Linked DNA regions of Homo sapiens. The protein of the gene in region 1 purifies or fractionates together with the protein of each later gene. This does not show direct contact. Each region holds a gene or a part of one and is shown in the gene's direction. Other genes may lie near its edges. The genes, in order: CNN3, NEK10 and CORO2B.

The links.
Region 2: the proteins of CNN3 (region 1) and NEK10 purify together in Homo sapiens (co-immunoprecipitation; one large-scale study listed by IntAct). This does not show direct contact.
Region 3: the proteins of CNN3 (region 1) and CORO2B purify together in Homo sapiens (co-immunoprecipitation; one large-scale study listed by IntAct). This does not show direct contact.

The regions. Positions count from the first base shown.
Region 1 is NC_000001.11:94,920,538-94,924,190, reverse strand, and holds part of CNN3 (calponin-3), read left to right. Parts: exon of another isoform or gene 1-1,323; intron 1,324-1,969; exon of another isoform or gene 1,970-3,653. UniProt on the Homo sapiens protein: Thin filament-associated protein that is implicated in the regulation and modulation of smooth muscle contraction. It is capable of binding to actin, calmodulin and tropomyosin. The interaction of calponin with actin inhibits the actomyosin Mg-ATPase activity.
Region 2 is NC_000003.12:27,292,871-27,296,523, reverse strand, and holds part of NEK10 (serine/threonine-protein kinase Nek10), read left to right. Parts: intron 1-833; coding exon 834-911; intron 912-2,871; coding exon 2,872-2,936; intron 2,937-3,653. UniProt on the Homo sapiens protein: Plays a role in the cellular response to UV irradiation. Mediates G2/M cell cycle arrest, MEK autoactivation and ERK1/2-signaling pathway activation in response to UV irradiation.
Region 3 is NC_000015.10:68,711,401-68,715,053, forward strand, and holds part of CORO2B (coronin-2B), read left to right. Parts: intron 1-141; coding exon 142-306; intron 307-2,524; coding exon 2,525-2,641; intron 2,642-3,158; coding exon 3,159-3,263; intron 3,264-3,653. UniProt on the Homo sapiens protein: May play a role in the reorganization of neuronal actin structure.

The DNA.
Region 1 (3,653 bases):
GGACTCCCGGGTGAAAGGTGGGTATATACAAAAGTGACATTGCGTGGTTTGACACCTTTTGATTCCTTCCTGCTTTTTCTTTATTGCATAATTGATACATTGCTTGAATGCTAGATTCCCCCCATCTACCCCCACATCTCATTTAACAAAGAAGTATAGAAACATCCTGGGGAGACAGTGTGGAGTGGACCTGGGAGTCTAGCATATGTGAGTTCTAGTCCCCGTTCTGCCACTTCCTGCCTTCTGTGATGCTGGGCTAGCTACTTGACATCTCTCTCCTAGCTTCTGTTCTGTAGAATGGGGGAAAACAATAGTTGCCACCCCCAGACACCATGTTGTGGAGATGTGTCTGGCTTATACTCAACTCAGTGACTGTATTGTAGCTATTAGCTCTTAGTAACAGAAAATTAGTTTTTAGTATTATATTTCTAAGATTTGTATGTCCCTGCCTCTTTAAGTATTTGGTTTGTATTAATACCTTTTGGTCTTGTTATATAATATTCTAGCTGTAAAAGCATTTCATCAATGAATTGAGGAAGTCTCTGATTTTAAATACTTTAATCAGTAAAATTTCAGAGAAAAATCTTTAAGACATTTGATTGGTAAGATGATAATACATGGCAGAACACACAAGCTTACTTTTTTTAATAGGCAAGAAGATGTGTGAAAACAGCCTTAAAAAAAAAAAGCCTAAGAATTCCAGTCTTTCAGCCTGGAATATGAACAAAGTTTCTTTAATAACAAAGAAAAAAATGACACCAAATGATCAATAACTTAGAGTTTACAAAAACTATCAGAGAGTAAAAGGGCCAGGGAAAATGCAGACACTGGTAGGGATGGTTCGGTGGAGGATGGAAACACTCATAAAATAATGGGCCCTACAGGTATTCTACAGGTTGAACCAGGCCCTTGAATGCATCTTGGGAACCAAAATGAAAAGTGAAACAACTCTGTGCCTCGTAAACCATGAAAAAACATAACAGGTACTCAAGGGAAGCACAGTATTTCCTGGCAAAATGTTGGAGTTGGGGGTAGTTTCCCGTAAAGTTGGATGGGAAGAGAGGACGCAGTGAAGCATGTCTTCATCAGGTTTAGAGCAAATGCCGCAGGAACCTTTCTTACAGGTCTCAGGGAAAGTGGAAAAAATAAATTGACAAATGGGGAGCTGAAATAATCTTACCTCGGTATGTTTTTTTGGGAGGAAGCTAACTGGAATATTAAGAAGCATGGAATTGGAATGCACATTCTTCCAGTCTTCTGCCCCCTTGGAATGTCTGATTTGAGCAAAGCAGCTTCCCACGGGATCTTCTTGATTACAAAATGGTATTTCTCAACACCTAAAAACCTTCTTGAAAGGCTTATTACCAAAATCTTTGGTTGTTGAAGTTAAACAATCATACAGTAATAATTAGATAGGACCAGTGTCCGCGAAGTCCTCCTAGCTTGTTTGCCGGGTGCGCTTTAGACGCACAGCTGCTCTGAGGGTACTTCTGATCAGAGTAACCCAGGGTGACCCAGCTATAAATTACACTCGAGGGTGGTTTGCCTTGTCTTGCTGGTAGAGCACCAGAATCTTGGTAAAAATGTGTTGGTGGGCTTAGCTTTTTTCTTTTTAAACTTGGAAGTTCAGAAATTGGTTTTTAATTAAAATCTTTTTTTGTTTGCTTATTATCTGTCTCTTCCCACCAGAGATAAAGCTCTCTTATTCGCGGGTGTGTCTCAAGATCGATATTTTACAATATAGTTTAGCACATAGCATATGCTCAATAAATATTTGAATATTTGTTGATTTAATGAATTTATTCATCGGGAATAGATTTTGCTATCTCTAGACATAAGAAGTTAGAAATTAACTCTGTAGTCTAAATAAGATAATTCTGTAGTGCAAGTGTGATGATTTTGAAGGATGTGGTTAAAAAGAAAATATTCTAAAAAATATTTTATTTTTTGATCTCGCTATGTTGCCCAGGTTGGTCTTGAACTTCTGGCCTCAAGTGATCCTACTGCCTTGGCCTGTTAAAGCACTGGGATTACAGGTGTGAGCCACCATTCCTAGCCTTGTTTTTCTTAAGTAGTTAAATAGTTAATATTATGTTGAAATTTTTCATCTTTGCTGCTGATTTTGGGATTATTTCTTAAGATAGATATTTTGACTGGGCTCTTTCTTAGACTTCCAAGTTAGGAATGGTAGAGGTGTCCTCTGCAAGGATTTGTCCAGTGCCTGCATTTTCCTGAATACTGCTGGAGAAGGGGCCATTCAGCCAGGGACTTTGCTCCTGGTAGGAACCAGCTATTGCTGTTGGTCTGCTTTAGTTTTTGTTTTCCTGTCTTGACCAAAACAGATAAATAAGATACACTTTGCTGAAGTGACAAGAGATACCATGCTTCCTCTTTAAAATTCTCATCCTTATTTACTCTGGAGTTTTAACGAGGATTATCGTCAGGCTCACTGATTTTTTACAGTCTAACATTTGTGGAAATTGTTCTGTCTCTAGACAGTCCTTTAGATTTCAGAAACAATCTTGACAATGATGACATCGCTAATACCCACCATCAACAGAGGTATAGGCTTTTTTTTTCCCCAGTGCCTGTTTCCCTTCCAGGTTGGGACATGAGGGTTAGTGTTTCCTGCCTCCTTTCCCTCTTTAACAGTGTATCCTTAAAGTCATAATGAATCTGATCTGCGGCATAAAAAAAGTAAGCACAATTGGATCGTTTTGGTTTTTCACCCATCATTAGCATTGTATTCAGGAGAGTGAGGAAATGCATTTTCTTCTCTCTCTTTTTTATTTTTTTGAGATGGAGTCTCCCTCTGTTGCCCAGGCTGGAGTGAGGTCGTACGATCTCGGCTCACTGCAACCTCCACCTCCCAGGTTCAAGCAATTCTCCTGGCTTAGCCTCCCGAGTAGCTGGAATTACAGGCACCTGCCACCACATCTGACTAATTTTTGTATTCTTAGTAGAGTTGGAGTTTCACCATGTTGGCCAGGCTGGTCTCAAACGCCTGACCTCAAGTGATAACACCTGCCTTGGCCTCCCAAAGAGCTGGGATTACAGGTGTGAGCAACTGTGCCCAGCCCTGCATTTTCTTTCTCAGTGAAACTAGGTGGTGGTTGGAGAAAGCTTGTCCTTAGAATTTGTTGGCAAGTTCCATTTAAATCTAGGCATTACCCTCCTGTAGCATATACCATGTGCATTGGCTCTCCTTAACTCTGAACTTATTTTATAGCCCAAATGGGCTCTTAACTTATTTATGTGTACTTGTACCCTCAGATTTTTGTTAAGGATTCTTGGAACTCATAGGTAGATCCAGGTTGTTTGTGGGGACGAAGTTTATACAATTTGGGGGTCCTCATTATGAAAAATATATAAATATCTTTTAAGTTTTACAAAAACCTATGGCCATGTGAACCCTTTTGAACTTGAAGACTTCTCCATACCTGTCATACAAGGTTCTTGTCAGGGAAAGTAGAGCTTAGTGGTTAAGAACATGGACTGTGGGAACTGGGTTGGATTCCTGGTTCTGCATCTTACTGTGAACTTTGGCAAGTGACTTAACCTGCCTGTCTTGTATGTAAAATGAGGATATCATAACACTCATCTTTATAGGGTTGTTGGGAGAAATCAGATAGATAATCCATGTAAAGTGTTTA
Region 2 (3,653 bases), on another chromosome or scaffold:
CGTACATGTTAGTAAGGGATCAGCTCATCAATGATTAAATTAGGACATAAGAGAAACTCAGCAGATCAGGGGGTAGTTGATAGAACAGGGCATCTGAAGTTGGCCAGATTGAGGTTCAATTCCTGGAATTATTACTTCTTGGCTTGGCTTCTAAAAAAATAATGTATCCACTCTAAGTATTGGTTTTCTCATGTATAAAACAAGGAAATTATAGACTAATTTCACAGAGTTGTTACAGAGATTAGATGCAATAAGGCAAATAAAGCTCTTTGCAGTTATAATATGAATGCCTGCACACAGTAAAGATCAGTACATTATATATTTACTAGATAATAGAAAAGTGGCTGTAAGGTATTATTATTTGTTCATTCCTTCATGTGTATATTTCAATTAAAAAATCTAGAAAGATGTCAAGATTATAATAAAGACATAAATTAATAACTGGAATATAATTTCTCCCTTTATGGTTGTGGTAATTAAGGATATAAATAAATATCAAAGATATAAATCTAAGATATTGGGACACCTTTACTCTGTCCCTTTTTAATCTCTCATTGTTTTTAAGGTATTTGAATCACTTTACGTTTATGTACTTTATTATAATCTTGATTCTCCACAGACAGTTGAAATTTTAAAATTGTAGTTGTACTCTTTGGTGTTTAAAAGTGTTATGTTGACATTTTAAATATTGTCCTGTAATGTTTACTTCAAGGTCCATAGTTATACTAATATTTCTTCTTTGATATTAATGTTTGAGATTGTTTATTTGCCTCTTTTTGCTTGTGTATCACTACAGTGTTGTCACTCATAGTATGACCCCTTTATTCTTTCAGGAAAATGGTGTATATACAATAGCAAAATTAATTTTACCAAATAAGCAAAAGAATGCAGCAAAAAGTAATCTATTACAGGTAATAAACATGTCTCTTGTCCTTCAGTATCAAGTTATTGAAATCTTGGGTAACTATGGTAAAATGATCTATGATTTTTAGAATGTTTAGGTTAGTACTGGTCCCTGTACTGACTATGAGGGAAAAATATCTGGCAAGGAAGACTGGCATGGAATCAAATAATATTAAAACAATACAGAAGGCTTAACAGTGGTTTCTCTGTGTGGGAGAATTAGGTGATTTATTTAGGTGTTTCTTTGCTTATCAATAAGTTCTATTTTTTTAAAAAAATATGCATTCCTTATGTATCAGAATATAACAACAGGGGGAAAATTATTTGCCATCATGGATCTTGATGGATGAGAAGGGACTTGCCAAGTGGATAAGGGGATATTGGGTGGGGCACCAATGGCATCTGCTGCAGGGTGGAAGGGCATTCCATGCAGAGGGAACAGCATGCACCAAGTGTGAAAGCTGTGAGCTTAGAGTGTGCTGAGGGAAGTGTGAGCTGCTCAGTGGGGTTGGGGTGTGTGGTTGTGGGGGCCAGTGCTCCAGCAGATGAGGCCTCACATGTAAGAAAGGGGAACAGTTAGCCAGGTTCTACATTCATTTTTGAGGAGTGGGTGTTGGGAGAGCTGAGTAAAGGGTGAGCTGCTCAGTGGAACTGGGGTGTGTGGTTTGGGGAGGCAGTGCTCCAGGAGTTGAGGGCTCACATGTAAGAAAGGGGAACAGTTACGCAGGGTTCTATGTTCGTTTTTGAGGAGTGGGTATTGGCAGAGTGGGGGCGGGGGGCAGTGGCCCTAATGTCAAAATCTGATTTAAAGTTAGTCTTTGCAATAGTTGTAGCTCATCTTTTTTTTTCCCCCAAGTCATTTTGAAAAGGAAGAAAGAAACAACCTTTGTCTCCAATCTGATTTAAGAGTTATCATCCAAAATGATGGCCAAACCCAGCAGACTCTTTCGGGGTGTCTCTGTGCTGGCAGGCAGGGGTTTTTGGAGCGCTACCAACGGGAAGGTGCAGGCATGGGACTTGATTTCTTCAGTGCATCACAGATATATGACACTGTGCTGTTAAACAGATAAAGACAAACCCATCCTGCAGAGACATTTCGTTAAGCCAGTAGAGGGTTTTTTAGAATTCCAGATGGAGGGCTTTTGAGGAATATGCATGCTCTCCCTTTCTCACAGTCTCCACTGCTCTCACCTGGCTCCTTCATGTCATTTTGTTACCGGCCTCACCTCTCTGGGCAATTTTGTATGGGACCCTTCTGTGTTCAGATCACTGATTTTAGGAAATGATCCCAGATTTGATTCACCAAACCCTGATCACTCCAATGGTGGCCTATTGTGCAGGCACAGCTGCAGGCTGGGCACACTCTTTTTTCTCAGTACTGCAAAATGTCAGATGTTTATTTTTCCTAGGTAAAGGCTCACAGGCCTCTTTCTGAGCGTTCTAGGGAGTTAGTGTAGATTGTTCTATTTGGGGAATGCTTAAGACTCTTTACTCAAGAGACCAATTTGTCAAGTTTGAATCCAGTGTGCCTGCGGCTATTTTTATATGTCATCATTTCTAGTGTTTATTTTCTCACAGAAACCATATAAATATTGAGGTATACATAGCAGGCTAGAAACAAAATAAACCTTGAGCTCCTGGAAATCTTTAGACATTTGGTTTTCTCAGCATCGGAATTTTATTTCTTGTCTCTGTACTCATTTTGTACTTTCTAGAAAGAAATTAATGACGAGTACCAAGTGAAGCAAGGCCAATATTCCCTGCATTCTACAACATAAACACTTTTTAAATACAGGAATGACCCCAGGTGTTGGTGTTTTTTGTTTTCAGTTAGAAGCTTTGGCTCCAACTTGGACCAGCCACTTACAATAAAGTCACGTTAATGTTTACTTCCTGTTAATTCTTTCCTGAAAATGTTTTAATTTGTTGAGCTACCATTTGAGAATCACATATCCTTTTGTTTTCTAGTGTTATGCTTTCAGAGCCTTGAGATTTCTCTTCAGTATGGAAAGAAACAGACCACTCTTTAAAAGGTATGAGGTTAGAGAAATATAAGTGATCATTAGGTTTAGGAGATCATTAGATTGAACTGTTTTCACATACTTGGCTTAGATGCAACAGAAGGAAAATAATGCGTCAGTATGCAAACCATGTGTCTTCAGATTTCTTATTTCACAGATAGAAGTGAGCTACTGTAGTGATTCAGTATCCAGCCACACTGAATATTAACAGAATGATGATGAAAGAGCATAAATTGCTATATCAATACAACTCCCCTTAATTACATGTGACTGCTGTGATTTTAGCTTTCTTTTTGATAATTAAAGATATTAACATTTTTAAAAGATGGCATTAAAATATGAGCTTCTTTTTTTCCAGCTAGAAATTTGAAAGTCAATCGGGTAATTTCACTTTAATCAAAGGGAATTTAATCAAAGGGAAAACAAACTGTTTTTTTGTGTGTCTTTGATGGTGTAGGAGCTCATTTGAAGGGGAGGCTGGATGTTCTGGGGTCAAGATACTGTGTTGGTGAGCCTGACCAAAAGGTCACCATTTCGGGAAGCAAACACTGGTTCCCTCAGTGGTGTTCTGCACACCATTTAGTTAGGTGGGTTAGCCAAAATCATAGGCCCAAGTTTTTATTAAAATTTTGTTAATAAGGCAGAATAGACATAAAGTATTGAGTTAATATAGTATTTTTTGTTCAGAAAGCATGGAGCGTCACTTTTCGGCCTTTTGGCTGAGATCAA
Region 3 (3,653 bases), on another chromosome or scaffold:
CAATGACCCCCTCCTGCACCCCAGCACACCCCAGGCCCTGCATGGGGCGCTTCTCCCAGGGCAGTCAAGTGTGCACTGGGGACAAACACCCCAGGACCCTAGCAGCCACTGACCCTGCCTCCCATGCATCTGCCCTCGCAGGTCCTCATCTGGAACCTGGATGTGGGTGAGCCGGTGAAGATGATTGACTGCCACACGGATGTGATCCTCTGCATGTCCTTCAACACGGACGGCAGCCTGCTCACCACCACGTGCAAGGACAAGAAGCTGCGTGTGATTGAGCCCCGCTCTGGCCGTGTTCTGCAGGTGGAACCCTACATTTTTTGAGATTGAAGGGGAAGGTATTGAGGGCTGGGGCTCAGCTTTCAGCAGGCCTGGAAGAAAAAGGCTGTGCCAGCCCCCTTCTCCAGTGCATCTCACTGCACCTCTGTTGAACAACCTTTCTCTCTCCTGGGCCCTTCTCAGCTCATAGGAACCCTGCCTTGTTCTGGGTGGGGAGGGACCTCATACCCTTTCCTGTCCCCACTGCACCCCCTACCTCCAGACAGGATTCTTCTGGCTTGCTCTGGGGGCTGAACTGGTGACACCCTTCAGTGCATACATCCCCAGGTGTTACCCAGGTCCACCACAGGCACAGGAGGAGGAGACACTGGACTCACTGCCCAGCCACTTGATAGGATGAGCCTGAGGGAAATGGCTAGGGTGCCAAGGCTGATGGTGAACTTAGCTCCACTTTTGGTCTTTGAATCTCCTGGGTCTTGGGTTTGAGGAAGGGGTTAAGTGCCATTTGGAAGTAAGAAATTACCATTTTTTGAGCACCTGCTGTGTGCTGGTCATGGGGAGAGATGGAATGGAAAATATGGATGATATCTGAGGTTTGCCTTCTACACAAGAAGGGATTAATGCTTGATCTGGGTGTGTTTACCTTGGAATAGTCCAATATTACAAGACCAGAAAGTTTTCTAGTACTATAGGTTGAGCATCCCAAATCCAAAAATCCAAAATCCAAAAGACTCCAAATCCAAAACTTTTTGAGCACTGACATAACACCCAAAGGAAATGCTCATTGGAACATTTCAGATTTTGGATTTGGGGATGTGGGAAGCTCAACTAGTAGGTATAATGTGAATATTCTGACATCGGAAACAATCCAAAATCTGAAACACTTCTGGGCCCAAGCACTTCAGATAAGGGCTACTCAACCTGTACCACTACAAATAAGAATAATGAGAGTTGCTTAGCATGATTAGTGTTAACTGACATCTGCTAAGAGCTCACTGTGTGGCCTGCACTGTGCCCGGGGCTCTGCACATCATCTCATTTAATCCTCAGGACAACCCTCTCAGCTGGGTGCTGTTACTCCTCTCATGTGATACGTGAGAACACTTAACCTTAGCGAAGTTGGGAGACTCGAATCTCACAGTTCCAGGAGGAGCTAGGATTCAAACCCAGAGCCCATGCCAAGCAGAAAGAATGTTTATGAACAGAGAACCCCCACCTCCAATTCCCAAATGGGGCCATGAGCCCAGGGAAGGTGAAGGTCTTCTCTTGGGCTACACTTTTTTGGTGGAGCTAGAACTAGAGTTCAGAGTGTGTGACGCCAGCCTGAATATGTGCACTGCCCCATTGGCCTCTTTTCTGACTTGCTGCCAACTTACCTGATGCCGAGGACTGTTGTGTGTTAGGAGGAAATCAAGTGTCACGAGCCAGTGGGCAGGAAAGGAGGCCCAAGACAGCTCAGTTAAGGAGGCACTCCCTGATGAGGCAAGCTGTGAAGCAGTGATGGGCATGAGTCTCTTGTCCTCCTGAGCCTCAGTTTCCTCACCCTCAAAATGGGGATAATGATTTCTTCCGATAGATATTGTTATGGGGATGAAAAGCAATGCCCCTGGTGAGAGCTCCTGAAGTGGTGTAGCCCCCAACTGGACTTGGTGGACGTTGGCTCCCCTCTCGCTCCCTGTTCCCCACATTCTCTGGGAAATGGCAGAGAAGGCATCTGTGGAGCCATTGCTGCACAGTGCTTAGAACAGTGTCCTATGGCTGCTGTAACAAATGCCCACAAACTAGGTGGCTGAAAACAACAGAAATGTATTCTCTCACCATTCCAGAGGCCAGATGTCCCACATCAAGGTGTCAGCAGGACTGTACTCCCTACAGATGCTCTAGGAGAAAACCCATTCCTTGCCTCTTCTGGGGGTTGCCGGCTCCCGTGGCTGGTGGCCACATCACTCCAGTCTCTGCCTCCAGGGTCACACACCTTCTCCCCTGTGTGTCTCTGTAATCTTACCTCTCTCCCACAAGGACACTCATGATGGCATCCAGGATCCACCTGGATAATCCAGGGTAATCTCATCTCCAAATCCTTAGCTTAACCACATCTGCAAGGACCCTTTTCCAAATAAGGAAATAATTGCAGGGGCCAGGGCTGAGGACATGGGTGTATCTTTTCGGGACCACCATTCATGCCACTGCAGAACCCACATGTTGGGGACCCTGGCTCACCACCTCCCTCTGTTCCTACTAGGAGGCCAACTGCAAAAACCACAGAGTGAACCGGGTGGTGTTCCTGGGGAACATGAAGCGGCTCCTCACGACAGGGGTCTCCAGGTGGAACACAAGACAGATTGCCCTCTGGGACCAGGTCAGCCACGGGGAGGCCTGCTGGGTTTGGGCTAAAGGAAGCATCGTTGCCTCGGAGGTCACTTCCTCAGAAAGTCAGGAGCCTGGGCCCGCACACCAGCTTCTCATAGCATTCCCAGTGGAGAAATCAGACAGAGACCCCCAGAGGCCGAGCTTGGGTACAGAGGCTTCAAGGAACAATGTCGGCCACACCTGCAAGATGTTCACCCTCTTTTTCCAGAGTGGGGGCTGAGCTCCAGAGAGATTGAGAGACTTACCTGGGGACACATAGCAAGTAGCAGGTTTGGGGACAATGAGAACAAGTCCCTTGCCTCCTGTTTGTAAGACCCTTTCCACTGCCCCTGGCTGCTTTTCGTGACAAGAAAGTCAGTCTTGCCACCACCCATAGGACGGGCTTTTTAACATCTAGGGGAGGTCTTAACATAAAGTAGTTGCCATCCTAAGAGGCCTTCCTGGGATTTGGGGAGGGGTATGCCATCCTGCCTGCAGAGAGGCTGAGACCAGCTCTTCTCCCTCAGGAGGACCTCTCCATGCCCCTGATCGAAGAGGAAATTGATGGGCTCTCTGGCCTCCTGTTCCCCTTCTATGATGCTGACACCCACATGCTCTACCTGGCTGGAAAGGTAGTAGGAGGTGGGGGAGGGCCCGGGGCAGCCTGTGGGAGAGCCCTACCCTCAATGCACCCCTGCACCTGCCCCACCCCCTGGAGAGTAGCCAGCCTAACCTTCCAAGTTCCTGGGCCTCACCTTTCCCATCCACACCTGCCCTCAAGTCTGACACCCATTCTTACTCAAGTGTCTGCTACCAAGAATTCCTTCAAAGGTGAGCTGGAGCGGGCTTTTACATTGGAATAAAGATCAGAGCCTGCAGTGTAGTCAGTGATGAATGATGGAATTTGAGATACCCGCCAGGAGATCCTTGGTGAATACAGCCTTGTTTGTCAGAAAGGCTGTCTACACACACACACTCACATCAGCCCATCCACCTCCACCTCTCCACCCGCAGTGAGTCCC